7 linked regions of the Homo sapiens genome follow. The protein of the gene in region 1 purifies or fractionates together with the protein of each later gene. This does not show direct contact. Each region holds a gene or a part of one and is shown in the gene's direction. Other genes may lie near its edges. The genes, in order: HORMAD2, MCM8, CCNYL1, WASHC4, KIF2C, WASHC5 and AVL9.

Region 1 (3,500 bases):
AATGCTTTTACACTGTTGGTGGGAGTGTAAATTAGTTCAACCATTGTGGAAGACAGTGTGGCAATTCCTCAAGGATATAGAACCAGAAATACCATTTGACCAAGTAATCCCATTACTGGGTATATATCCAAAGTATTATAAATCATTCTATTATAAAGACACATGCACACATATGTTTATTGCAGCACTATTTACAATAGCAAAGACTTGGAACCAACCCAAATGCCCATCAATGATAGACTGGATAAAGAAAATGTGGCACATATACATCATAGAAAACTATGTACCCATGAAAAATAATTAGTTCATGTCCTTTGTAGGAACATGGATGATGCTGGAAACCATCATTCTCAGCAAACTAACACAGGAACAGAAAACCTGTGTTATGTATGTTCTCACTCATAAGTGGGAGTTGAACAATGAGAACACATGGAAACAGGAAGGGGAACATCACACACTGGAGCCTGTAGGGGGGTGGGGGGCAAGGGAAGGAATAGCATTAGGACAAATACCTAATGCATGTGGGGCTTAAAACCTAGATGATGGGTTGATGGTTGCAACAAACCACCATGGCACATGAACAAACCTGCACTTTCTGCACATGTATTCCAGAACTTAAAGTATTAAAAAAAAAAAAAGCTGGATTGTGAATCTTGTTGACTTGTCACTAAAATAGGAACTGTCATTTGGAAAATAAACATAGAGAGCTACAAGTTGCCTTGTAAGATGTTATTTTTCAAAATCTAATTTTAAATTTCTTACATCTGTATTTAATGATATACCTTGGCCTCATTTCAGTCTAATTCTCTTGGTTGGGCATGGTGGCTCAGGCTTGTAATCCAAAGTGTAACCATAACACTTTGAAAGGCAAGGTGGGCAGACTGCTTGAGCCTAGGAATCCAAGACCAGCCTGAACAACACGGTGAAACCCTGTCTCTATAAAAAATACAAAAAATTAGCTGGCCATGGTGGTGAGTGCCTGTAATTCCAGCTACTCTGGAGGCTGAGGTGGGAGGATCATCTGAGCCTGGGGGGTTAAGGCTACAGTGAGCTGTGATTGCACCACTGAATTCCAGCTTGAGTGATACAGTGAGACTCTGTCTCAAAAAAAAAAATTATCTTAAGTAATGTAAGAGCATCAATAAAATGCATGTGTGCTATAAGCACATAAACATGATATTTGCAATCATGACAACCTCATTTGTATTATGACATCTTTTGGTCTATGAGATACAAACTTGTAATAGTGAATGTGTTTATATCTAACATATATTTGTAATTTTCCCTCTTGTCTAGAACATAGAATTGAGAAAGACATATTTTTGATAATAAGCACATATTGTGTGCCAGTCACTACCCTAGGCAACGGCAATGATACCATTCCCTATAGCTTTATTTTTTGTGACAGTTATTGTGGAAGTTTTATGTCTCCCTTTCAATGTTTGTTCTTAAAGTAATATACATCATAAAAATGCTTAATACTCCTGTGTCACTCTCTTGTAATTTCTGAATGTTATATCAACATGGGATAATTTTCATATCCCTCAATAGAGATACAGGTAACATCAATTTTAGTATAGGAAAACAATACGAAAAGGTGAAGTTGCTTATGCAAAATCACACATAAATCAGTGATTGATCTTGGACTACTTTAAACCAAAACTCTATTTATTTATTTTGAGAGGGAGTCTCATTTCATTGTCCGGGCTGGAGTGTGGCGGCATGATCATTACAGGATTACAGCTTCGACCTTCCAGCCTCAAGTGATCCTCCTGCCTCAGCTTCCTGAGTAGTTGGGAGTATAGGCATGTGCCACTATGCCCAGATAATTTTTTTAATTATTTTTTTTAGAGGTGAGGTTTCACTAGGTTGCCCAGGCTGGTTTCGACGTCCTAGGCTCAAGCAATCCTTCTGCCTCAGCCTCCCAAAGTGCTGGGATTACAGGTGTGAGCCACCACACCCGGCCTAAACCCAAACTCTTAATATGATATTCCTATTCTTCTTAAGTATAAAAAGGTAGATTTCGGATAAAATAAATATTTGAGAATAATCCGTGTGAAATTTTTTATTCCTTCCTTTTCAATGAGAGGGAGAGAAATAACAGGGAAATGACTGATATTTAGGTGTATATTTTAAGTTGGTCAATGGAGATAGTCTCAATACTACCTCATAATTACTTAGAATTCTACAGCGGCAAAGAAAGGACACAAATTGATTTTGGAGCCAACTCAGTTGTGCTACATTGTAGAAGGGGGAAAATCCTTACTGTAATCGAAATTGAGACCAAGCTACTTCTTAACATAGGATTTATTTTTAAAGTAGATGTTTAGAGATCCAAAATGTTTTTATAAGCTATAAAACTAAATAAATTACATAAATAAAATAGTTAAAGGAAATACCCTATTTAGCATGGACAATTTCAGTACAGCAGTCATTTAGTAGATAAAAATAGACTGTGTTTCTGTTTTTGTAGACCTCAGTTTAAAAATCCTCCGAGAAGATAAAAAATGTCCCGGGTCACTGCATATTATCAGATGGTAAGTAATAGAAATTCTATAAAAGTTGAACAACATTATTTTTATCATGGCTGAAATTACCCATAAGACTTTATTTAGTAAGATCATTTTTTAAAAAACCATTTCTTCTTTTCTACTTTCCCTCTTTCTTTTTCTTTTTCTGTTTTTGATTTTTTTTTTTTTTTTTTTTTTTTTTTTTTTGAGATGGAGTCTCGCTCTGTCCCCCATGCTGGAGTGCAGTGGCGCAATCTCGGCTCACTGCAACCTCTGCCTCCCAGGTTCAAGTGATTCTCCGCCTCAGCCTCCCGGGTAGCTGGGACTACAGGTGCATGCCACCACGCTCAGCTAATTTTTGTATTTTTAGTAGAGACAGGGTTTCACCATCTTGGCCAGGATGGTCTCGATCTCTTGACCTCATGATCCAACCACCTTGGCCCCCCAAAGTGCTGGGACTACAGGTGTGAGCCACTGCCCTGACCTACTTTCCCTCTTTCTTTTTAAAAATAATTTTCTAGGAATTTGTAAGAATTATTCAATATAATTTTAAGACACTGATTTAGCTTTTTGAAAGAAAATTGACTTGTATAAAAATAAAAACTGTGATAAAATATTAAATATATACACCTATTATGTACCCACACAGATTTTAAAAATTGATAATTCATCATATGTGTGTCAGTGTACTAAACATGGGATCCAAAAAAATTTGGTTCACTACCACAAAATAGCTCACTATTACTTATAAAGGTCTATCATCATATTAAAAGTTGCTGGAAGTTTAAAAAAATGATTAAATGGGAAAGGTAAGATGGTTATCAACTTAATGTACATCAAAGCAAAAAGTGCAAATGAATTCTGTACTTGGAATTTTTTTGGATTTGCATATGGTCCAATTGACATCAAACATTTATTTCTTGACAGGATTCAAGGTTGTTTTGATGCTTTGGAAAAGAGATACGTAAGAATGTTTTTACACTTACACTG
Region 2 (3,500 bases), on another chromosome or scaffold:
AGATGCTCCTGAACCTCAAATAATTTGAGGAATTTCTTGTTGCTTACATAAGATGAAACATTCCCTTTTAAAAAAACATGTATTTGTAGCTCCCTATGACTTTGTTTTATATTCTAGTTGAGTCATTGTAGGGAAAATGAAAATACCAACTATTGTATTTAACACTTTTAATTTACAGGTTCTCGAAATAAGAATGACAAGTGTATGTTCCTTTTGTATATTGAAGCAAATTCTATTAGTAATAGCAAAGGACAGAAAACAAAGAGTTCTGAGGATGGGTGTAAGCATGGAATGTTGATGGAGTTCTCACTTAAAGACCTTTATGCCATCCAAGAGATTCAAGCTGAAGAAAACCTGTTTAAACTCATTGTCAAGTATGTATGCTGTCATTTGAAATTTTATTACATAGATGCATGTTGGGGGTTCTCTTGGCTACAGGTAACAAAAAACTAGTCAAAATGGTCGGCAAACTACAGTCCATGTACCAAATACAGTACTCCATCCCCTTGAGTATGGCCTATGAACTAAGAATGGTTTTTATATTTTTTAATGGTTGAAATAAATTAAAAGAATATTTCACAACACATGAACTTATATGAAATTCAGATTTCAACTGGATATGGTGGCTCACGCCTGTAATCCCAGCACTTTGGGAGGCCGAGGCAGGCGGATCACTTGAGGTCGGGAGTTCGAGACCAGCCTGGCCAACATGGTGAAACCCTGTCTCTACTAAAAATACAAAAATTGGCCGGGCTTGGTGGCGGGCGCCTGTAATCCTAGCTACTCGGGAGGCTGAAGTGAAGAATCACTTGAACCCGGGAGATGGAGATTGCAGTGAGCCAAGATCGTGCCATTGCACTCCAGCCTGGGCAACAAGAGTGAAACTCTGTCTTTAAAAAAAAAAAAATTCTGATTTCAGTGTCCATAAATAAAGTTCTATTGGAACATAGCCACACTCATTCATTTACATAAGTGTGCTGCTTTTGTGCTACAGTGGCAGAGTTGAATAGTTGTGACAGAGAACATATATATGGCTCACATATTTTTGCTTTATCCTTTTATAGAAAAAATTTGCTGATCTCTAGTTTAAACAATACAGAATATTTACTATCTTATACAAGAAGTTTGTCACTCAACGGAAGAGTGAGGGAACAGTGAATTCCAAAGCCATTTCAATTAGTTCTGTGTAGGGTGTTGCTCATAGAGATTCAAATCGAATTAACATATATTCAAAAAGTATTTGATAATTTTATTTCCATGCTATTGCCATGCCGTGGAGAAGCAGCAAAGTATAGGCATTTTTTGCTTTAGTGGTTAAGAGCTTTTCTTTGGAGACAAACCTAAGTTAGACTCCTGCTTTGGGCATTTACTTCCAGTGTGATCTGGGACATATTACTTAATTTCCCCTTTATTTGTATCACCTTAAAATGGAAATAATAAGACTTACCTCAGAAGGTTGTTCTAAAGATTAAGTGGGATTTTATAATGTACTTAACATAACTACTGCAACATACTGTTACTTTTGATAATTTTTTGACAACTGTGGGGTAATTTTGAAGAAATAGGAGAAAATGAGAGAGACTGAATAATAGATATATCTAAGAGAGGTAAAGAACTGAGAACGTTTTGAAATGCATTGTATTATAAAAAGTGATCTTGGCCAGGCACAGTGGCTCAAGCCCGTAATCCCAGCACTTTGGGAGGCCGAGGCGGGTGGATCACCTGAGGTCAGGAGTTCGAGACCAACCGGACCAATATGGTGAAACCCTGTCTCTACTAAAAATAGAAAAATTAGCTGGGCATGATGGCAGGTGCCTGTAATCCTAGCTTCCTGGGTGGCTGAGACAGGAGAATCTCTTGAACCTGGGAGGCGGAGGTTGCAGTGATCTGAAATCGCGCCACTGCACTCCAGCCTGAGCAACAGAGCAAGACTCTGTCTCACAAAAAAAAAAAAAAAAAGTGATTTTGTCATGCTTTTCTGTTCAGTAGGCTCAGGTCTGTAAGAGGATTTGATGCTTTTTCTTTCTGGCTTTAATATGTTAATTAGCTGACTGAGTAAAGAATAGTGCTCCACAGGGGTTTTTTGTCCTTAAATCCTACTTCCCTCTGAATAAAAGCCATTCAGACCCACCCTGGAAGAGAGGCTGCTCTAACTTAGCGTTGCTGGGGTGGTCTTGGAGTGAGTCCTTTGAGCAGGTGGCCAAGGAAGCAACCTGGTCGACAATCCAAACATCTTTGGTTCCTCTTAACAGTTGTAAATTAAAACTGAACATTTTTAGTGGTCCCTCTTCTCCCATACTTATAGAAGAGTAAGTATGGAAAACTTTAGTTTTCTTCCCACAGTTTGCTTTTTCCCCCTCCATGTTTGTGATTTCAGCATCAAAACTAGAATTTTTCATGGTCCTCTATTATCAGTCTAGCAGAGATTGGCAAACTAGGCAGGCTGCCTGTTTTTGTAAGTCAAATTTTATTAAAACACAGCCCCACCCAGTTTACTTACATTACTGTTCACAGTTGCTTGCACACTACAAGTTGAATAGTTGTGACTGAGACAGTATAGCCTGTGAAGCTGAAAATACTTTCTGGCCCTTTAAGAAAAAGTTTGTCAACCCAGCCTAGGTGACAGTAGAAGTTTATGTTTTAGTTTAGGTTCCTTCAGAAGCAATGATTTGGATCAACATAGTTTACTTGGGAGGTGATTCTGGAGTTACTGGTAGGGAAATGATGGCAGCCAGTGTAGGTGCCTTAACGAACAGGTGACCCACTAGCATCTGGGACATAATCCTCCTGGGCCAGTGGAAAACTCCACTGTGGAAAGCCAGCTTCAGTATTTTTCCATTTAAGGGCCTACATTTGGGACTGCCCCCAGGAGTATTAAACACCTCAGCACTTCTGGCCTGCCCATCCTGCCTGCCAATGATGCTTGTGTGGCCATAGAAAGGTCTTTGGCAGACAGGTGCAGATGCCAGTAGGAAGCCGGAACATACTGAACAGTGAGTGCCAAGGGGATATGAGCACACCACCACCTCCTTCTGTGTTTACATATATTAAAAGGGAATAAAGACTCATGTTTTACTCCTGATTTTCTCTCCCACCCTATTTTTGTTTGTTCCTTGTTTATAAAATTGACAAATGTAAATGTACTGTTTTATATTCTTTCTCTTAATTTTTTTTAGAGACAGGGTCTTGCTGTGTTGCCCAGGCTGGATTGCCGTGGCACAATCAGAGCTCACTGTAGCTTCAAACTCCTGGCCTTAAGTTATTCTCCCACCTCAGCCTCACAAGTAGCTAGGACTAAAGGTGTATGCCACCATGGCTGGCTAATTTTTAATTTTTTTTTTTATAGATATCGGGGTCTCACTTTGTTGCACAGGCTAGTTTTGAACTTTTGGGCTGAAGCAGTTCTTCCACCTTGGCCTCCCAGAGTGCTTGCTGGGATTACAGGCATGAACCTGTAAACCAAAAATAAAATTCCAAGGCCCCCCACCCATTTAAACAGA
Region 3 (3,500 bases), on another chromosome or scaffold:
TGGCAGGGCTGGGGGTGATGGGGAGTGGTAACAAAACCATGTGGTTCAGAGCCAGATACTGATTCCAGTGTAGGTCTAAGCCAAGTCCCAGGCTCTATTCCCCAGGTATTTCCGATATGTGTGGTGATTGAGAACTATTGCCCTAAATTCTTTGTTCCTTGGATGATGGGTTTTAATCATCTCTGCCTACCTCTTGTGCCTGCTCGTGATGTTGCCCAGCAATGTGGTACCAGCAATACTTGGACAAAGGCTTTGCTGATTAGCTTACTAAGCTATAGCTGTGTCCTTAACTTTATGTCCTCCATACAGAATTCCTATGGTAAGATTTTATCATTGAATAATAAATCCTATTCAAGTGGTTAGGATTGTTTTACTCCTCCCCACAGCAAACCTATAGAGGAAGGTCAACTGCATGGCCTGGAGGGAAAGAATACTTAGGTCAGTACCTACTCCTTTAGCATCCAATTGGAATTTAGGAGAGAAGGCTTCTGTGCACTTGAATAGAAGCCCCTCAGTGGGTACTGGATCAGACTTAGGCCTTTTCATGGAGCTGTAAGCCATTTGGAACACTTAGCACATACTGTAGAGAAGCAGGAGTGGTGCTTCCAGATGTAGAGAGACAGGTGATACAGGAGAGGAAGCTGTACAGGAAGAGGGGAGTTCATTTTAGATGGTTTAAGCTCTATGTGCCTGTGAGGTAGCAGTGACAGTGTCCAATAATCATTTGAATGTACCGGACTGGAGCATGAATCTGAGCTTAGAGGTAAGGAATGAAGAGTTATAGTAGCTGTTCAAATACAGAGAAAGGTTGCAGAATGAAAGTGGAGAAGCTAGGCATGGTAGTGCACACCTGTAGTCCCTGTTGCTGGGGAGGCTGAGGTGGGAGGATCACTTGAGTGCAGTAGTTTGAGTCCAGCTTGGGCAACATAGCAAGACCCCCATCTCTAAAAAAAGAAAAGAAAGTGGATAGAAGATAGATCTCTAAAGACTGTTAGCATTTTTGAGGGACAAGCTCCCAGATGGAGTGGAAGGAGGAAACCCAGGAGAAGGTAATAAAAGAACAGAGATCAAGATAAGAGAGGCTATGGTCCCAGTGTTAAATGCTGCCAAGAAGTTTCTGATTCTGTAAATATTCACTGGGTGCCTACTCTGTGCCACTATTCTTGTTTTTTGTTTTTGTTTTTGTTTTTGTTTTGTTTTGTTTTAATTTTTTAGTAGAACTAGAGTCTAGCTATGTTGCCCAGGCTGGTCTCAGAACTGACCTCAGGTGATCCTGCCAGAGTGTTGGGATTACAGACGTGAGCTACCAAGTGCTAGAGTAGAGGAGAGGCAGATTGAACAAAGTTCTTGCCTTTATGAGCTTATGTTCTAGTGAGGAAGACATTTTTTCAGGTAGTGGTAAGTAGCAAGAAGATGAAGCAGCATAAAGGGATACAGAGTGACAGGAGGGGCTCACTATTTTAGATAGAATGATCAGGAAGAACCTCTCTAGAGGTGACATTTGAGCAGTGACCTGATCAAAGCAAGAAGGTAAAGAGTGCTGGCATTACAGGCAGCCAGACAAGTGCCAAGACTAGACAGGAACATTTTGTGTGTGTGTGTGTGTGTGTTCAAGGAACAAACAGCAAGGTGTCCCGTGTGGTTGGAGTGAGTTGGAAAGAGTGGAGGAGGTTGAGGTCACATAGGGCCTTTTGGCTTGCAGGCCACAGGAAGGTTTTTTTTGTTTTGTTTTGTTTTGTTTTTGAGATGCGGAGTCTTGCTATGTCACCCAGGCTGTAGTGCAGTGGCTCAATCTTGGCTCACTGCAACCTCCACCTCCCAGGTTCAAGCAATTCTCCCTGCCTCAGCCTCCCGAGTACCTGGGCTTACCAGTGCCCGTCACCACGCCTAATTTTTTTTTTTTTTTTTTAAGTAGAGACCGGGCTTCGCCATGTTGGTCAGGCTAGTCTTGAACTCCCGACCTCAGGTGATCCGCCTACTTCGGCATCCCGAAGTACTGGGATTACAAGTGTGAGCCACTGCGCCTGGCCAGGAAGAAGTTTTTATTCCAGTTTGATGGGTACTTTAGGTAGATTTTGAGCAGGGGAGTGAAGTGCTCTTAAGAAGTTATGCTGATGGCTTGAAGAGAGTAGGCCATAATTGGCAGAATAGAGGCAGAGAAGAGAGTTAAGAAGCAACGAGGGTGATACAGGTGAGCAGTGACAAATGGCAGCTCAGAATCAAAAGCGAGCAGCCTACCAATGAAGGTGGACATAGCAGGAATTGTGCACAGTCTGGTGTGGGATAACTTGAATGTAGGTATTTGGTCTCAGCAACTAGGTGAATGGAAATGCCCTGTACAATATTAGGGAAGACTTGGGGAGTGGAGCAGTGGGATGAAGAGCTCTGGCTTGTAAGTGTGAAGACTCTGGGGACCTTGGCAAGAGGAGTCTCAGGAGAGTGACAGCAGCAAGGGACAAACAGGAGTGGGTTAAGGAGAGATGGGAGATGAGAAGCTGACACCAGGACATGATGCTTTGAGCAAATGAGAGGACACATCCGGGGAGTTGTGGGGAGGGGGATGGGAACAAAGGAAACACGTTGGGGAAAATCTCTGGCAGAGAAGGAGAAAGCCTTCAAAAAGACGCAGTTGCGGGGACAGTGTTCTGCACAAGTGGGAGGGGATCAACTGCACTGATGGAGTTGGCTTTAGTGGGAAGAAAAGAACTCTCACACTGACACAGGAGGGCAAGTGGTATCAGTGAGCATCAGCACATCACCAGCTTACCCGTAAAGGCAACAGGAAGTTGAGGGATTGTCTATGTTGTTTCCCTGTGGTCTAATTATTCCCATTGAGATTTGAACCCTGTTAGGATACTGAGAGTGCAGAATTTGGGGGAAAGGGAACAGAATCTCTCTTAAGAACATGTCATGTTCAATATCCATTTTTGAAAACACAGTCCAGTTTGGAGAACACTGCCAGATCTGATCTGCCTATCTGATAACCTTCAGACAGTAAATAAGCTCTGTTAAAATGAACTTTTTTCAGGCTTGGCACAGTGGCTCACGCCTGTAATCCCAGCACTTTGGGAGGCTGAGGTGGGCAGATCACTTGAGGCCAGGAGTTTGAGACCAGCCTGGCCAACATGGTGAAACCCCGTCTCTACTAAAAATACAAAAATTAGCCAGGCGTGCTGGCGGGTGCTCAGCTACTTGGGAGGCTGAGGCAGGAGAATCGCTTGAACCCAGGGGGCAGAGGTTGCAATGAGCCAAGATTGCATCACTGCACTCCAGCCTAAAAAGATTTCTTTTTGTCTTGATACAGAGTTCAAACAGCATATAGACATACTCTTCCACAGAGAACCCTTTGAGGTAACAGCAAATTACAGCTTACCTCTGAAATCTTTACTCAGCTGTTCACTTTGCTCAGTTCTTTGAAGGATGTTTGGTAGATGTAAAATAATTCATGAAATTGTCTCATAAACTGCTTGGCAGGTTTAGAGGAATACCAGGGGTCCAGA
Region 4 (3,500 bases), on another chromosome or scaffold:
TTCACCTTCAGATCATGAATATTTGTTTTTGCAAAAGAGTTGTTCATGACTAAAAGATAGAATCAGGACATTGAATTGTTTAAGGCACTTTTCAGATTGGTTCAAAGCCCTCTATTATGGGGGTAGATGGGCTAGTGGCTTTTTCATAATATGTTAGGGTTTTAAGGTAGTAACTTTATATATGGTAACATCTACTGCTTTTAAAATTATTTCGTGTATAGAGAAGATTGAAAGCTGAATTGTTGTTTAACTTTGGAACTTTATTTTCAGGAAGTCCAGACATTCCAGAGTAATAATTAACAGTGCTTTGCGTGACTTTTGAGGTTATTTGAAGTAAATGTCCTGCAATTCATTACTTGCACTTATCACATACTGTTTTAAAATTTAAACTTAGAAATTCATGCCGAAGTCCAACTTAAGAATTATGGGAAATTTCTTGAGGAGTATACCTCTCAACTGAGAAGAATTGAGGACGCTCTGGATGACTCAATTGGAGATGTTTGGGATTTCAATCTTGATCCTATAGCATTAAAGGTTTGATTTGATTTTTTAAAAATATATGTATATATTTTCTGGACATACTATATCCTGAAAACATAATTTTTTAAAATGGAAAAAGTATTTTTATTTGAAATCTAAGAACAAAATGAAAGTTGGAGAAAATTGTTAATTTCCTTTTCTCTAAGCCATGCAGATGTTTTTTAAATGTGTGTGTTTTCTGTTTAAGAATGACAAACACACAGCCTTTAGTGTCAAAGAATGACACAAACTCCAAGTCTTTGAGCTTGCCTTTGATTTTCATTATTAAGAAAATGAGGGCTGGATAGAATATTCAGGCTTTGTTTTTTCTTGATTGAGACTATTTTACATAGAGTGAAATGCAGATACTCTTAATTTTGCCAAACACTTGTAACTCATATCCCAATTAAGATAGAGAATATTTTCACCATTTCTGAAAAGTTCTCTCATGCTATATAGATGTTAATGTGTGAGTAATTTTTTAATGTATAAAATACATTACTCTTTCCATTTTGAAATATTTCTTTTATCTTTAAAATTAGTTTGTTACCACTTGAAAAATAATTTACATTTTATTGAGCACTTGTGTATTACACACTGTCCTAAGTCACACACTGACTTGTTTTTATAACAGCTTTCTTGAGATATAATTCATATATCATACAATTCACTCATTTAAATTGTATAATTCAGTTGTTTTTAGCATATTCACTGAGTTGTACAACCATCACAACAGTCAATGTTAGAACGTTCTCAGCCCCCAAAAAAGAAACCATGTACCGTGTGATAATCAACCCCCAGTTCATGCCATGGCATACCTGCCCTAGGCAACCACCAGTCAATCTACTTTTTATCTCTATGTGTTTGTCTCCTCTGTACACTTCATATAAATGAAATCATACGATATGTGCTCCTTTGTTGCTGGCTTCTTTAACTTATGTTTTCAAGGCTCATCTATGTTGTCACATGTTTTTAGTACTTTCTTTTTTTGCTGTTGCTGAATAATATTCCATTGTAAGGAATGGATAACCACATTTTATTTATCCATTCATCAGTTGATAGACATTGGATTTTTCTACTATTTGGCTGCTATGAGCATTTGGGCACATGATTTTGTGTAGACATATATAAGTATATTGTATATAAAATGTGTGTACATTGTGTGTATATTTTATACATATGTATATATGGGAGTGGAAATCCTGGGTTATGTGGTAACTATGTTTAACTTTTTGAGGAACTGCCAGAATGTTTTCCAATATGGCTATACCATTTTACATTACTACCAGCACTGCATGAGGGTTCCAGTTTCTCTACATCCTTGCCAGCCTTTATTGTCTTGATTATATTCTTCCTAGTGAATGTGAAAGCTCATTGTGGCTTTGATTTGCATTTCTGATGGCTAATAATGTTGAGCATCTTTTCATGTGCTTATGGCCATGTGTCTGTTTTCTTTGGAGAAATGTCTGTTCACATCCTTTGCCCATTTTTAAATTGGGTTATCTTTTTAGTATTGCATTATAGGACAAGTATTGACTTTTAATTCCCACCACAATCCTATAAAGTAGATACAATGTCATCTCCATTTGTAAATGAGAAAACTAAGGCATAGAAAAGTTAAGTAACTTAGTCAAGTAAGTGACACATTTAGTTAAATAATGAATATCAGGCAGCTTGACTCCAGAGCCTGTGCCCTTATCCAATACCCTGAACTGCCTCACAAATACTTTATATATTTGTAAACTGAAATTACTTTCCTTTGACTTCTTTTCTTGCAGGCTGGATAGACTTAGTCTTACTTTAAAAATCATCCCCCCCCAAATTTGTAATTGTCTCTTTTTGTTCCTCAACACTTCTGTGAGAATCATTGTATGTAAGTTATAGGAACTCTACTAGGAAACTGTCATTCTCAACCTGTACTATCTCTGAGGGTAATAAGTTTCATATATCTGTCACTTGGCATTAAGTAATACATGTTGATTTTTTAAACAGATGCTGTTGGGCTTTCTCGCCATTAAGTAATACTTGTTGATTTTTTTAAGACTTGCTGTTGGGCTTTAAGGGCCTCTTCTAGATAGGATTATAAAATCTGTTTTTTTTCTCAACTCTCAGATTTTATAAAAGGGTGAAATCATCTCTTAGTTTTTATCTTCCCCTACAGAAGCTTTCTAATCTTTACAATCTTATTATATGACAGACTCCATCTCCGCAGTTGCTCTCTTCGGAACCTCTGTTTAAGTTCTATTATTGGGCAGTTATTTTATTGTTTTTACTATACAAGGTTCTTAGTATTTTGGGAAAAACCACAAACTCAGATAAAACCTCTGTAAACAAAAATTACAACCTAATGAGAAAGGGTATATAATAACTTACTTGCATAAATAGTTAGTTAGTATGTAACCAGAAGGGAGATCTGAGATTTCACTTGATAAATAGATCACATATAGTCAATGATCAGGAAGAGGTGGAAATTGAACGGGCTTTAGGAGTGAACTCCACATACTATTTTAAGTGTTTCTGAGCATGGATTTATACAAGAAAAGATGTATTTTCTGTCTTGTTTCATTCTTAATTTATTTTGACCCTTTAGCTACAATATCTTATTAAATTTGTGGCTGCATAGAAAATTCAAAAATGATGAAAGGTTTTTCCCCATGATCATAACTAATGGAGTTTAATAATGTTACTATTACCTTATTACCTTGCATTTTCTTATACTGCACTCATAATCAGCCACCTTATGCTCCATAGGACAAGTAGAGTCGTGATTGTGTCATGTTGGGCCATTTCTTTCCTTACGTGTTGTCTAATGAGATTGTTTTGGATGAAGTAGTTGATATGGTGCTAATGTTGAGTACAGGATCTAACACAAGTTTAAGTCGAATAAAGCTAGCCTCAATTTGTGTTTTTAAAATTTCAGTTATTTTTCAAATTAAAAGAAATGTTCTTTTCCTTTGTTTCTGTAGCTTTTGCCTTATGAA
Region 5 (3,500 bases), on another chromosome or scaffold:
GCACCTGAGTTCAAGCCCTGTTTGTCACGTGGGGGCATGTTTTCCTCTGGCCATGGAATCAGTCTTTCATTATCAAGACAAAACAAGAACTGTTTCACTTCTGTGGTTGTTGAGAAAGTAGCCAAGATGCATAGGAAGAGCTTGGGTTAGAACTGGAGTGCAGTTATCACTATTTGACTTCATATTGGCCAGGCCACTACTTTGTGGACTTGTCCATCCCGAGAGTCACATCTATTACTTCTTTTTGCATATAGTGATTTAAGAGTAAGGATCTAGAGAAGGCCTCTCCCTGGGAAAGGCCCAGTACTCAGTAAATAGCCAGAGAAGAGTAGGCTGGCTTAAACTGGTAACAGAGTGGGCTTCCTTTTTTTTTCTTTTTTTTTTATGTTTTCATAGTTCGGAGGAAATCATGTCTTGTGAAGGAAGTGGAAAAAATGAAGAACAAGCGAGAAGAGAAGAAGGCCCAGAACTCTGAAATGAGAATGAAGAGAGCTCAGGTACCTTTCTTGGGAGACTAGGGTAAGGGTTTTTGGACAGGTGTCCTTAACCGAAACTCTACGGGCAACAGAGATACAGTTGGGCCCCAGCATTTCTGAGGCTCCAGTTCTTGAGGCCCCAATTCTTTTTTTTTTTTTTTTTTTTTTTTTTTGCTCTGTTGCCCTGGCTGGAGTGCAGTGGTGTGATCTCGGCTCACTGCAACCTCCACCTCTGGGTTCAAGTGATTCTTGGGCCTCAGCCTCCCAAGTAGCTGGGATTACAGGCATGTGCCGCTAATTTTTTGTATTTTTAGTAGAGACAGAGTTTCGCTATTTTGCCCAGGCTGGTCTGGAATGCTTGGCCTTCCAAAGTGCTGGGATTGTAGGCATGAGCTGTTGCGCCTGGCCTCTGACGCTCCAATTCTGATATCCAGGAAATTTAACTGGTTTATCAGGATTCAGAGAACAAATAATTCAGAAATGTTTCTGAAGGCCCTCAGATGAGGAACATTTCATGCTGACTGTCTAGTAAGCAAGCCCATCACATGCTCACATGGCGTGATGGCCAGAGGGGCTGCAGGGCACAATTGGTCTGCTCTCTCCTATCCTCCCCCAAGTTGTACGTATTTGGAGGGCAGGGACTGCAGTACAGTCCCCTTATTTGGGTTCATTGCTTCTGGGAAGCCCGATCTGCTGTGCCTCCTAAAATGTGGAACTGGCCCTAGTTCCAGTTCCTAGCGTGCTTTGGCGTATGCTTAGGCCCCTCTGCCAATCTCTTCCCCAGTGCTTTGTACCTGGCTTCTCAACCCAGAGCCAGGGCAGGGACTTTGACAACTATGAAGGGTGGTGAGCAAAGAGCTGTTGCTGCTGCCGCATAGGGGTCTGAGAGCACTTATATCTTAACAGTCTGCCCTTTTTCACTCTCGTCTCAAACCAGGAGTATGACAGTAGTTTTCCAAACTGGGAATTTGCCCGAATGATTAAAGAATTTCGGGCTACTTTGGAATGTCATCCACTTACTATGACTGATCCTGTAAGTACATCCAAAGAACTTCTCTTTCTTAAGTGTACAATTGAGAGACAGAAAACTTCTCTTTACAGGAATGAGGGCATGCAGGAATCTTTACTCACCTTTGAGGGTTTTATTATTATTTTTTTTTGAGATGGGGTCTCACTCTGTCACCCAGGCTGGAGTGCAGTGGTACGATCTTGGATCACTGCAACCTCCACTTCCCTGGGCTTGAGTGATCCTCCCCACCTCATCCTCCCAGGTAGCTGGGACCATAGATGCATTCCACCGCACCCTACTGATTTTTTGTATTTTTGGTAGAGACAGGGTTTCACCATGTTGCCCAGGCCAATCTGGAACTTCTGGGTTCAAGGAATCCGCCTACCTTGACTTCCCAAAGTGCTGGGATTACAGGTGTAAGCTACTGTGCCTGGCTGAGGTTATTTTATTTTACTTTTTTTTGAGACAGAGTCTCGCTCTGTCGCCCAGGCTGGAGTGCAATGGCATGGTCTTGGCTCACTGCAGCCTCCACCTCCCAGGTTTAAGTGATTCTCCTGCCTCAGCCTCCCCAGTAGCTGGGATTACAGGCATGTGCCACCACGCCTAGGTAATTTTTGTATTTTTAGTAGAGATGGGGTTTTACCATGTTGGTCAGGCTGGTGTCGAACTCCTGACCTCGTGATCTGCCCACCTCAGCCTCCCAAAGTGCTGGGATTACAGGCGTGAGCCACCATGCCCAGCCGAGGTTATTTTTTAATATCCTTTGGTGGGCTGAAGCTAGTGAGGCCCACATGGGGAGGGGTCTGATCTTTATAAACTGGGTTCCACCCCCATACCATAGGTTGGCTAGATTCCTGCATTAGTAAAAATCATGAAAGTAGTGCTGAAACTCTTGTAGGCAGCAGAGTGAGAAAAATGGGAACAAAATCCAGTGCTCCCTTCTTGTGCTCTGGAGTATCTAATGGAGGATGCAGGGGTCCTAGTGTTAGATCTTGGCCTCTGACTGGGCCAGACATGGGATTGGAAGGGGTGGGAGTTCTGGACAAGCTCGCTTTTGAAATTGCTCTGACCCTTTGCTGTTGGTTGCCTCCTCTCATCCGCTTGCAGATCGAAGAGCACAGAATATGTGTCTGTGTTAGGAAACGCCCACTGAATAAGCAAGGTAAGTCCTGTTCAGTCAGGAAGAGGCTTCAGACTGACTAATGGGCCTTCTGTTTCCAGGGAGCACCCCCTGAAATACTCTCCTTCTGCAGAATTGGCCAAGAAAGAAATTGATGTGATTTCCATTCCTAGCAAGTGTCTCCTCTTGGTACATGAACCCAAGTTGAAAGTGGACTTAACAAAGTATCTGGAGAACCAAGCATTCTGCTTTGACTTTGCATTTGATGAAACAGCTTCGAATGAAGTTGTCTACAGGTTAGTCCCTTGCATCCATTTTTCCCTCCTTGTGCCCTTCCATCCCCTTTTTTTGTGGGACATCGTGGTAACACTACTCACAGACGTGCTGAATTCTGAGGCTCTTCCTCGCTTCTTGTGTTTTCTTTGGGTCACACCCTTTGGCAGCTTAGTGGCCCATCCTTGAGTGGATACTGAATGAGGTATCACCCGTTACGTGCTGAGGCAGGGCTGGCCAGGCTCCAGGGGTTCTTCTGTGCCTTATGCAGCCACACCATTGCCCACTGGGGTTCACAGATTTGGGGAACTCCAGATCTGCTCTATCTGCTTTTTTTTTTTTTTTTTTTTTTTTTGAGACGGAGTTTTGCTCTTGTTGCCCAGACTGGAATGCAGGGGCACAATCTCGGCTCACTGCAACCTCCGCCTCCCAGGTTCCAGCGATTCTCTTGCCTCAGCCTCCCACATAGCTGGGATTACAGGCGCCTGCCATCACACCTGGCTAATTTTGTATTTTTAGTAGAAACAGGGTTTCGCCCTGTTGGTCAGGCTGGTCTCAAACTCCTGACCTCAGGTGATCCGCTCGCCTTGGCCTCCCAAAGTGCTGGGATTAAAGGTGTGAG
Region 6 (3,500 bases), on another chromosome or scaffold:
TTACTAAAGATCACCCAGTATAAGAATACCTTTCCCAACAGAACACCTAATAAATGCTCCATACTGACAATTAAATGTATGTTACACTTCTTATTTCTTTATTGTAAAGACACACTGAAGCACTTCATCTCTCTGATTTTTTTTCTTCAGGGCTCATCTCCAGCAGTATAGCAGGCAGCTAGAGAGGACAGACATCACCTCTTGTAACCCTAGTATTATTTATGCACTCCTTATACTTGTCAGTGCCAAGGAATGAGTTCAGCACAAAGGGCACAAAGATAAATATTGTTAATTTCCTGTTTGCCTGCTGCAGTTTTCTATAAGACCAGTCATTCTCTACTCTTTTAATGATCCTGGCTTCACATCAGAATCATCCGGGGAGATTCTTAAAAACAGAGATGCTTAGGACTACCTCTAACCTACTTACCAGAAACTCTAAGATGCTAGGTGATTCCCTTAAGCAGCCAGGCTTGAGAACCACTGGACTAGAAGGTGAGATGTTTAAACATCTTCATATCCAGCCTGGCAAAGAGGTATTCAGCAAGGAGTGGTTGGGTAAAGATCAATCCTTGCCTTCAAGAACTTTCAGAATGAGCTGTAAGCAACGATAATATTCAGTATGCTAAGTGATCTAACCATCCTCAGAGAGTGCATTGGAATACAAGAGAAGCAAGTAATGGATTCTGCTAACAGTGCTAGATACCTAAGTGCTGAATTTTATGAGACTTTTGGACCAGTTTGATTTAGTATTTATAAATCATCTTCACAGAATTTTGCAGAACCTAGCATCTGTAATTTTAAAAGGAATCTTGGACATGTTCTTACCTTAAGCTTGCAGTTCCATTTCTGGGAAATAATTGGACAAATGCCTCAAAATGATGTACAGGGATTTGTCTCTGAGCTCTCTTTATAGCGTTTGAAATTATTTGCTAATATATCAAATAGTAGGAGATAGCTTGTATAATCAGGGTACATTGGAACCACACATGCCCAGTGGTTCCTTCTCCCTAGCACAGAGATGAGCTGTATCATATCTTTTTCTCAAGAGAAGTGACTAACATGTTGAAGAAGAGGCCAAGAGTGTTAATCTAGCAAAGTCCCTCCACATGGAAAATATGAAGAGTGACAGATAAACACCCTTTCCCCTATAAAGGAACTCATTATTTCTTAAAATTTTTTTAGTGAGTTTGGGAGAAAAATGTGTTTCTTATGTGTACACATGTGCTTCCTTAAACAAATTGAGATTTTCACACTTTTTTTGGGGATACAGGTTCTTTAATGGAGGAGCCAATCTCTCTGCACACCTGGTTTCATCTAATAATATACAGACACCAGCTCTGAGGCCAGTTAATCATCCCCAGTGTCCAGGCACAGAGTAGTCGGTCCGCCTCACAATGTTGGACTTTCTAGCCGAGAACAACCTCTGTGGCCAAGCAATCCTAAGGATTGTTTCCTGTGGTAATGCCATCATTGCTGAACTTTTGAGACTCTCTGAGTTTATTCCTGCTGTGTTCAGGTTAAAAGACAGAGCTGATCAACAGAAATATGGAGATATCATATTTGATTTCAGCTATTTTAAGGTAATCTTCCTCTATAGCATTTTTATTGTTGTCTTTTCTACAAAAGCGTGTTTTCTCTGGGAACCATGAAACTCTGTAAGGTTAAGGAATTATGGAAAAAGCTAAAGAGAAGAGCTTTTCGACTAAACTTAATATTAGCTACTAACTTGAAAATAAGTTGAAAGTATTATGTCAAAGCCCTAACACAATATAATTGTATTTTTAAAAGATAACTTTGATATTTCACATTGAAGGGCCCCATACTTAAAAGCATGCTAATCTTGGGTCCAATTCAAATTCATTTCTCTCAAAGGGATTTTATATCTAGGCTTCTATTATCTTCACTACTTTCTGTTGCTCTGCTTTAAGTTTGGGATGTCTAATAACATAAGAACAAATTTTTAAAAGACTATTTAGAAATTGTCACCAACAAGTATGCTTTTATTGACATTTCACATGTGTTTTTTTTTCTCAGGGTCCAGAATTATGGGAAAGCAAACTGGATGCTAAGCCAGAGCTACAGGATTTAGATGAAGAATTTCGTGAAAACAACATAGAAATTGTGACCAGATTTTATTTAGCATTTCAAAGTGTACATAAATATATTGTAGACTTAAACAGGTATTGATCTATTTAGGAATAGCTTATTCTGGTAGTAAATAGTGGAGAGGGAAAAGGACACATAGCAACGTGTAAATCTCTCTGAGTTACTACAAAATTTCCTAATTTAGTTTATACTGTATATAGTTGTCTTTTCCTACCTGTGGCACTGGTCATCTTAAGAATTTTGAAGTTTTACTATAATGTCCTGCTCTTATGAGGTGTTGTAATAAACTTAGTTTAACTAAGTCATATAGTTTCCAATCCTGTTATTTATTATCATATCCTAGTGTATTATATGTGAAAAGTGGGAAAAAGAACTTATCTTTATCATTAACTTTCTGTCTCTTAATACACTTCTTAAGAATTCATTACTCATTAACTTTTAGACTAGATATTCCATGTTCTTCTGCCTTTACTCCTAGATACTTGTAATTCACAAATCAGGACTAGGGAATATTTCTTTTACTTGGAACAGCGATAAATATCAAACTGTGGCCCTAAATCAGTTTATAAGACTGTATTCTTAAGAGCATGAAGGACCATGAACTAGTGGAAGGCCAGAATGCCTGGCATCCTGCCTTATCTTTTAAAAATCTTTCCTTCTTTAAAGATGTTAAAGTTTCTATTATAAATTAATAACTTGCACTGTGGTTTTATTTCTAGATATCTAGATGATCTCAATGAAGGGGTTTATATTCAGCAAACCTTAGAAACTGTGCTTCTCAATGAAGATGGAAAACAACTTCTAGTAAGTAATAATGATTATTTAAAATGAAATTCAAGAATATCAAACATAGTATCACTTTTTTTTCTTTTAAGTCACAAATATATACGAAATACCATTCTTTAAAGAGAAGCGAAATGAGCTTTTAATTATCTTCTAACTGGCAGGTCCATATCTGAGTTTAGAACATAGACTTTGAACAGAATTTAAAACAGTTAAAAGTTATGTGGAAGTTATGAGCCTCCTCGGTGTAAGAATTCTGTCTTCTTTACTTTTTGCATCCCAGCCATCTGTCCTGATACCTAGTACATACTAACCATTTAAGAAATGCTGATTGAATAAGTGAATGATTTTATGATGAAGAGGTATACACAATATTGGGTTGCTATTTTGGTGTCCCAAGCAACATAGCCAAAATAGGTCAACTGAAAAATTATCACTATGAATTAAAATCTGTTTTACATAAACTTTTCAAGGCCCATTCGGCAAGAAGGTAAGAGCTCCTTGGAGGAAACCTACCTTTTCCTTGAAATCTAAAACTTTTTGAAGAAGTGTGAGCAAAGCAATATTTTTCATGATTACCGACTTTACTCCCTAAGAATGTATAATCTAGT
Region 7 (3,500 bases), on another chromosome or scaffold:
CCATCTCTACTAAAAATACAAAAATTAGCTGGACATGGTGGCAGGTGCCTGTAATCCCAGCTACGCGGGAGGCTGAGGCAGGAGAATCGCTTGAACCCGGGTGGCAGAGGTTGCAGGGAGCCGAGATCGTGCCACTGCACTCCAGCTTGGGCGATAGAGTGAAATTCTGTCTCAAAAAAAAAAGAAAAAAAAAAAATTCAGCCACACTGAGGTTTTTGTAGTTTCTGACAGAAAGTATGAAAACATGTTTCTTGGGTGAATGGTTATAATATAATGAAAGTCCAGGATTCAAAGATGTATTTATTATAATCCCAAATTTGAAGAAGAAAAAGTATATACATTTTCCAAGACAGGAGGATACAGATGGGAGGACCATAAAGCTGCTTCATCATTATTGGTTACATTCTAGTTCTGTAGTTGGTTGGTGGGTTCGTAGGAATTTCTTTTATTATTATACTTCAAAACTAACCTGTAAGTTACATGTATTTTTTAGTATATCAAATATTACATAATAAGATATTCTAAAGTATCTGGCCGGGCATGGTGGCTCACGCCTGTAATCCCAGCACTTTGGGAGGCCGAGGTGGGCAGGTCACAAGGTCAAGACATCGAGACCATCCTGGCTAACATGGTGAAATCCCATCTCTACTAAAAATACAAAAAATTAGCCGGGCGTGGTGGTGGGCGCCTGTAGTCCCAGCTACTCAGGAGGCTGAGGCAGGAGAATGGCATGAACCCAGGAGGCAGAGCTTGCAGGGAGCCAAGATTGTGCCATGGCACTCCAGCCTGGGCGACAGAGCAAGACTCCGTCTCAAAAAAAAAAAAAAAAGAATATTCTAAAGTATCTGCACGCAAAAGAAAAAGTATTTAAGGAATTATACTTGTTAAATGTGTTCATTTCTGCTAGTGAAATAAAGGTGATTTTTACATGTATTTCTATATTTTCCCAAATATTTGCAATCTAGGTGAGTAATTTTGTAATTTAAAATACTATATTTATGTGTGTATTTTCTAAAAACAGAAAATGAGCATTTTATAAATAGAAAGAAAACTTCAGTGTACAAACCTCTTTCTTAGACTCACCTTTTGAGAATGCCATTATTCATATTTTTTATTTCCAGCTCCACCTTCCCCGTAGTTACTCTGTAAAGTGTGGCATGGATGTCTGCGTGAATGCCCAGACTCTGACTTGTACCTGGATACCCTCTAGGTAGAAGAAGCTCTGATCCAGATCCATGATCCAGAACTCAGGAAGCTGCTTAACCCAACCACTGCAGACCTAAGGTTCGCAGACTACCTAGTGAGGCACGTGACTGAGAATCGGGATGACGTCTTCCTAGATGGCACGGGCTGGGAGGGAGGTGACGAATGGATCCGGGCCCAGTTTGCGGTCTACATTCATGCCCTGCTGGCTGCCACACTGCAATTAGGTAAGAAACCACACGGAGCCTACAGCTACCTGTTTTATTATAATTTTTCATTTTGTAACATTTATGAGATTTTGGATTGCACAATAAATACATATTCCTTATAGAAAAATTACCAGTTATTCCCTCATACAAAGATAGCCACTTTTAACGTCTTTAGTACTTTATAGCCTTGCAAATCTTTTCCTATGCATGTATTTTGGATTTTGGTTTTATGGTACTTTTGGTGGTCCTTTTACAAAAATGGATCCCTTTATACATGTTTTCTGAAACTATTACTTTATAATAGAAACAACACATACCAACATAACATGAACATATATCATCACTTTTACATGACTGCTTCATATTCATCAGTATTTGGCAGCTGTTTGTGAATACTGCCACATGTTTTTTAAGATGTATAAAGGGAGAAAGAATATAAAAAATAGAAATCATTGAAAATCGTGTTGTAAATGATTAAATCTTCAAATTTATAACCCATTCTAAGAAATATTATTATTCGTATTAAATGGTTAAAATGGAGCAGGTAAACATGGAGTTACTCCTGCATTAAAACTATCTCATTCTCCTTGGGAAAGAAATATATAAATAGTGAAAATGGAGCTCTGCAGTGAGCTTTTCACCTTGGACATTTGGCAGATATTTATTAGAGTTGTTAAAAATGTGTTGAGCTTGTGTTTTTGTTTCAGTTAACTAACCATTATTTTTTTAATTGTGATGAAATACACATAGCATAAAATTTACCATCTTTACCATTTTTAAATGTACAGTTCCACAGTGGCATTAGATACATTCATTGTTGTATCAGTAGATTTTTTTAATCAACACCACCACCACATGCTCCCAGGTTAGTTGTTTACAGTGCACATAGGAGTTTTAAAGTAGGTTTCGGGAGAGTTTTTCATTTGTAAAAGACAGCTGAGGAACAAGCCCTCGTTTGTTAATGAGATATTTTTAAATGTTTGCCACCACTAACAATGTAGCAGCTGAGACACCAAAATTAAATCCTTTAACCCCAAATCATTTGGTAATCTAGAAAGAAAACTTCAGTCTCCACTGCCATGTAGCTTAATTAATTTGCTTTTAAGCAAATTAATTAATTTGCTTTTTTAAAAATATTTGCCCAGGAGGCTGTAAGCACTGAATAATAGTAGCTCACTTTTTTTTTTGAACATTAAATATATGCAGGGACCAGTGTTCTGAGCACTTTACATCTAGTAATTCATTTCATCCTTACAGCAATCCTGAAGGTAGGGACCTTGTCATTGCCTTTTACAGAAGAGAAAATGAAGCTCACAGAGGTTCATAAGAGGCTTAGGTGGGATCTGATCCCAAACAGTTTGGCTTAGGCCCATACTCTTACAAGTAACAAGGTCAAAAGAGGAAATTCAGCCCAATGAACTGCTTGAGGAAGTGTTCTTAGAACAACTTCTTTATGCTGTGTATGGAACTGTGTATCTCATTCATTTCCTTTCCTAGCAACAAAAGGTACTTTGTATTTCACCTTCAAAGTAAACAACATGCAATTAATATATGAAGTAATAGCCATTTGTATCAGTTCTCCAAACCATTTCTAATCTTCCAAGCGGAGGAAACACATATGGATGCTTTCCCATGGTATTGATAAAGCTGAAAACTTTATCAGTTTTCAGTATATTCTTTTAAGACTTTTTTTGTTTTGTTTTGTTTTGTTTTTTGAGACAGAGTCTCGCTCTTGTTGCCCAGTCTGGAGTGCTGTGGCATGATGTTGGCTCACTGCAACCTCCATCTCCTGGTTTCAAGTGATTCTCTTACCTCAGCCTCCCGAGTAGCTGGGACTACAGGTACCCGCCACCACGCCTGGCTAATTTTTGTATTTCTGGCAGAGACAGGGTTTTGCCATGTCGGCCAGGCTGGTCTCGAACTCCTGACCTCCAGTGATCCGCCCTCCTCGACCTCCCAAAGTGCTGGGATTACAGGCATGAGCCACTGCACCTGGCCTTTTTTAAGTGTTTTTGACAGTGAAATGCTAGGAAATTCAAGAATGAAACACCAAATAAAGTCCAAAGGAGAGAACATCATGACTGAAAG

The links.
Region 2: the proteins of HORMAD2 (region 1) and MCM8 purify together in Homo sapiens (affinity purification with mass spectrometry; one large-scale study listed by BioGRID and IntAct). This does not show direct contact.
Region 3: the proteins of HORMAD2 (region 1) and CCNYL1 purify together in Homo sapiens (affinity purification with mass spectrometry; one large-scale study listed by BioGRID and IntAct). This does not show direct contact.
Region 4: the proteins of HORMAD2 (region 1) and WASHC4 purify together in Homo sapiens (affinity purification with mass spectrometry; one large-scale study listed by BioGRID and IntAct). This does not show direct contact.
Region 5: the proteins of HORMAD2 (region 1) and KIF2C purify together in Homo sapiens (affinity purification with mass spectrometry; one large-scale study listed by BioGRID and IntAct). This does not show direct contact.
Region 6: the proteins of HORMAD2 (region 1) and WASHC5 purify together in Homo sapiens (affinity purification with mass spectrometry; one large-scale study listed by BioGRID and IntAct). This does not show direct contact.
Region 7: the proteins of HORMAD2 (region 1) and AVL9 purify together in Homo sapiens (affinity purification with mass spectrometry; one large-scale study listed by BioGRID and IntAct). This does not show direct contact.

Annotation. Positions count from the first base shown.
Region 1 is NC_000022.11:30,100,964-30,104,463, forward strand, and holds part of HORMAD2 (HORMA domain-containing protein 2), read left to right. Parts: intron 1-2,473; coding exon 2,474-2,537; intron 2,538-3,437; coding exon 3,438-3,474; intron 3,475-3,500.
Region 2 is NC_000020.11:5,967,652-5,971,151, forward strand, and holds part of MCM8 (DNA helicase MCM8), read left to right. Parts: intron 1-178; coding exon 179-374; intron 375-3,500. UniProt on the Homo sapiens protein: Component of the MCM8-MCM9 complex, a complex involved in the repair of double-stranded DNA breaks (DBSs) and DNA interstrand cross-links (ICLs) by homologous recombination (HR).
Region 3 is NC_000002.12:207,742,640-207,746,139, forward strand, and holds part of CCNYL1 (cyclin-Y-like protein 1), read left to right. Parts: intron 1-3,500. UniProt on the Homo sapiens protein: Key regulator of Wnt signaling implicated in various biological processes including male fertility, embryonic neurogenesis and cortex development. Activates the cyclin-dependent kinase CDK16, and promotes sperm maturation.
Region 4 is NC_000012.12:105,110,731-105,114,230, forward strand, and holds part of WASHC4 (WASH complex subunit 4), read left to right. Parts: intron 1-394; coding exon 395-534; intron 535-3,485; coding exon 3,486-3,500. UniProt on the Homo sapiens protein: Acts as a component of the WASH core complex that functions as a nucleation-promoting factor (NPF) at the surface of endosomes, where it recruits and activates the Arp2/3 complex to induce actin polymerization, playing a key role in the fission of tubules that serve as transport intermediates during endosome sorting.
Region 5 is NC_000001.11:44,753,337-44,756,836, forward strand, and holds part of KIF2C (kinesin-like protein KIF2C), read left to right. Parts: intron 1-396; coding exon 397-497; intron 498-1,413; coding exon 1,414-1,509; intron 1,510-2,592; coding exon 2,593-2,647; intron 2,648-2,738; coding exon 2,739-2,901; intron 2,902-3,500. UniProt on the Homo sapiens protein: In complex with KIF18B, constitutes the major microtubule plus-end depolymerizing activity in mitotic cells. Regulates the turnover of microtubules at the kinetochore and functions in chromosome segregation during mitosis.
Region 6 is NC_000008.11:125,081,793-125,085,292, reverse strand, and holds part of WASHC5 (WASH complex subunit 5), read left to right. Parts: intron 1-1,270; 5' UTR 1,271-1,394; coding exon 1,395-1,580; intron 1,581-2,034; coding exon 2,035-2,180; intron 2,181-2,825; coding exon 2,826-2,910; intron 2,911-3,500. UniProt on the Homo sapiens protein: Acts as a component of the WASH core complex that functions as a nucleation-promoting factor (NPF) at the surface of endosomes, where it recruits and activates the Arp2/3 complex to induce actin polymerization, playing a key role in the fission of tubules that serve as transport intermediates during endosome sorting.
Region 7 is NC_000007.14:32,571,989-32,575,488, forward strand, and holds part of AVL9 (late secretory pathway protein AVL9 homolog), read left to right. Parts: intron 1-1,121; coding exon of another isoform or gene 1,122-1,210; coding exon 1,211-1,430; intron 1,431-3,500. UniProt on the Homo sapiens protein: Functions in cell migration.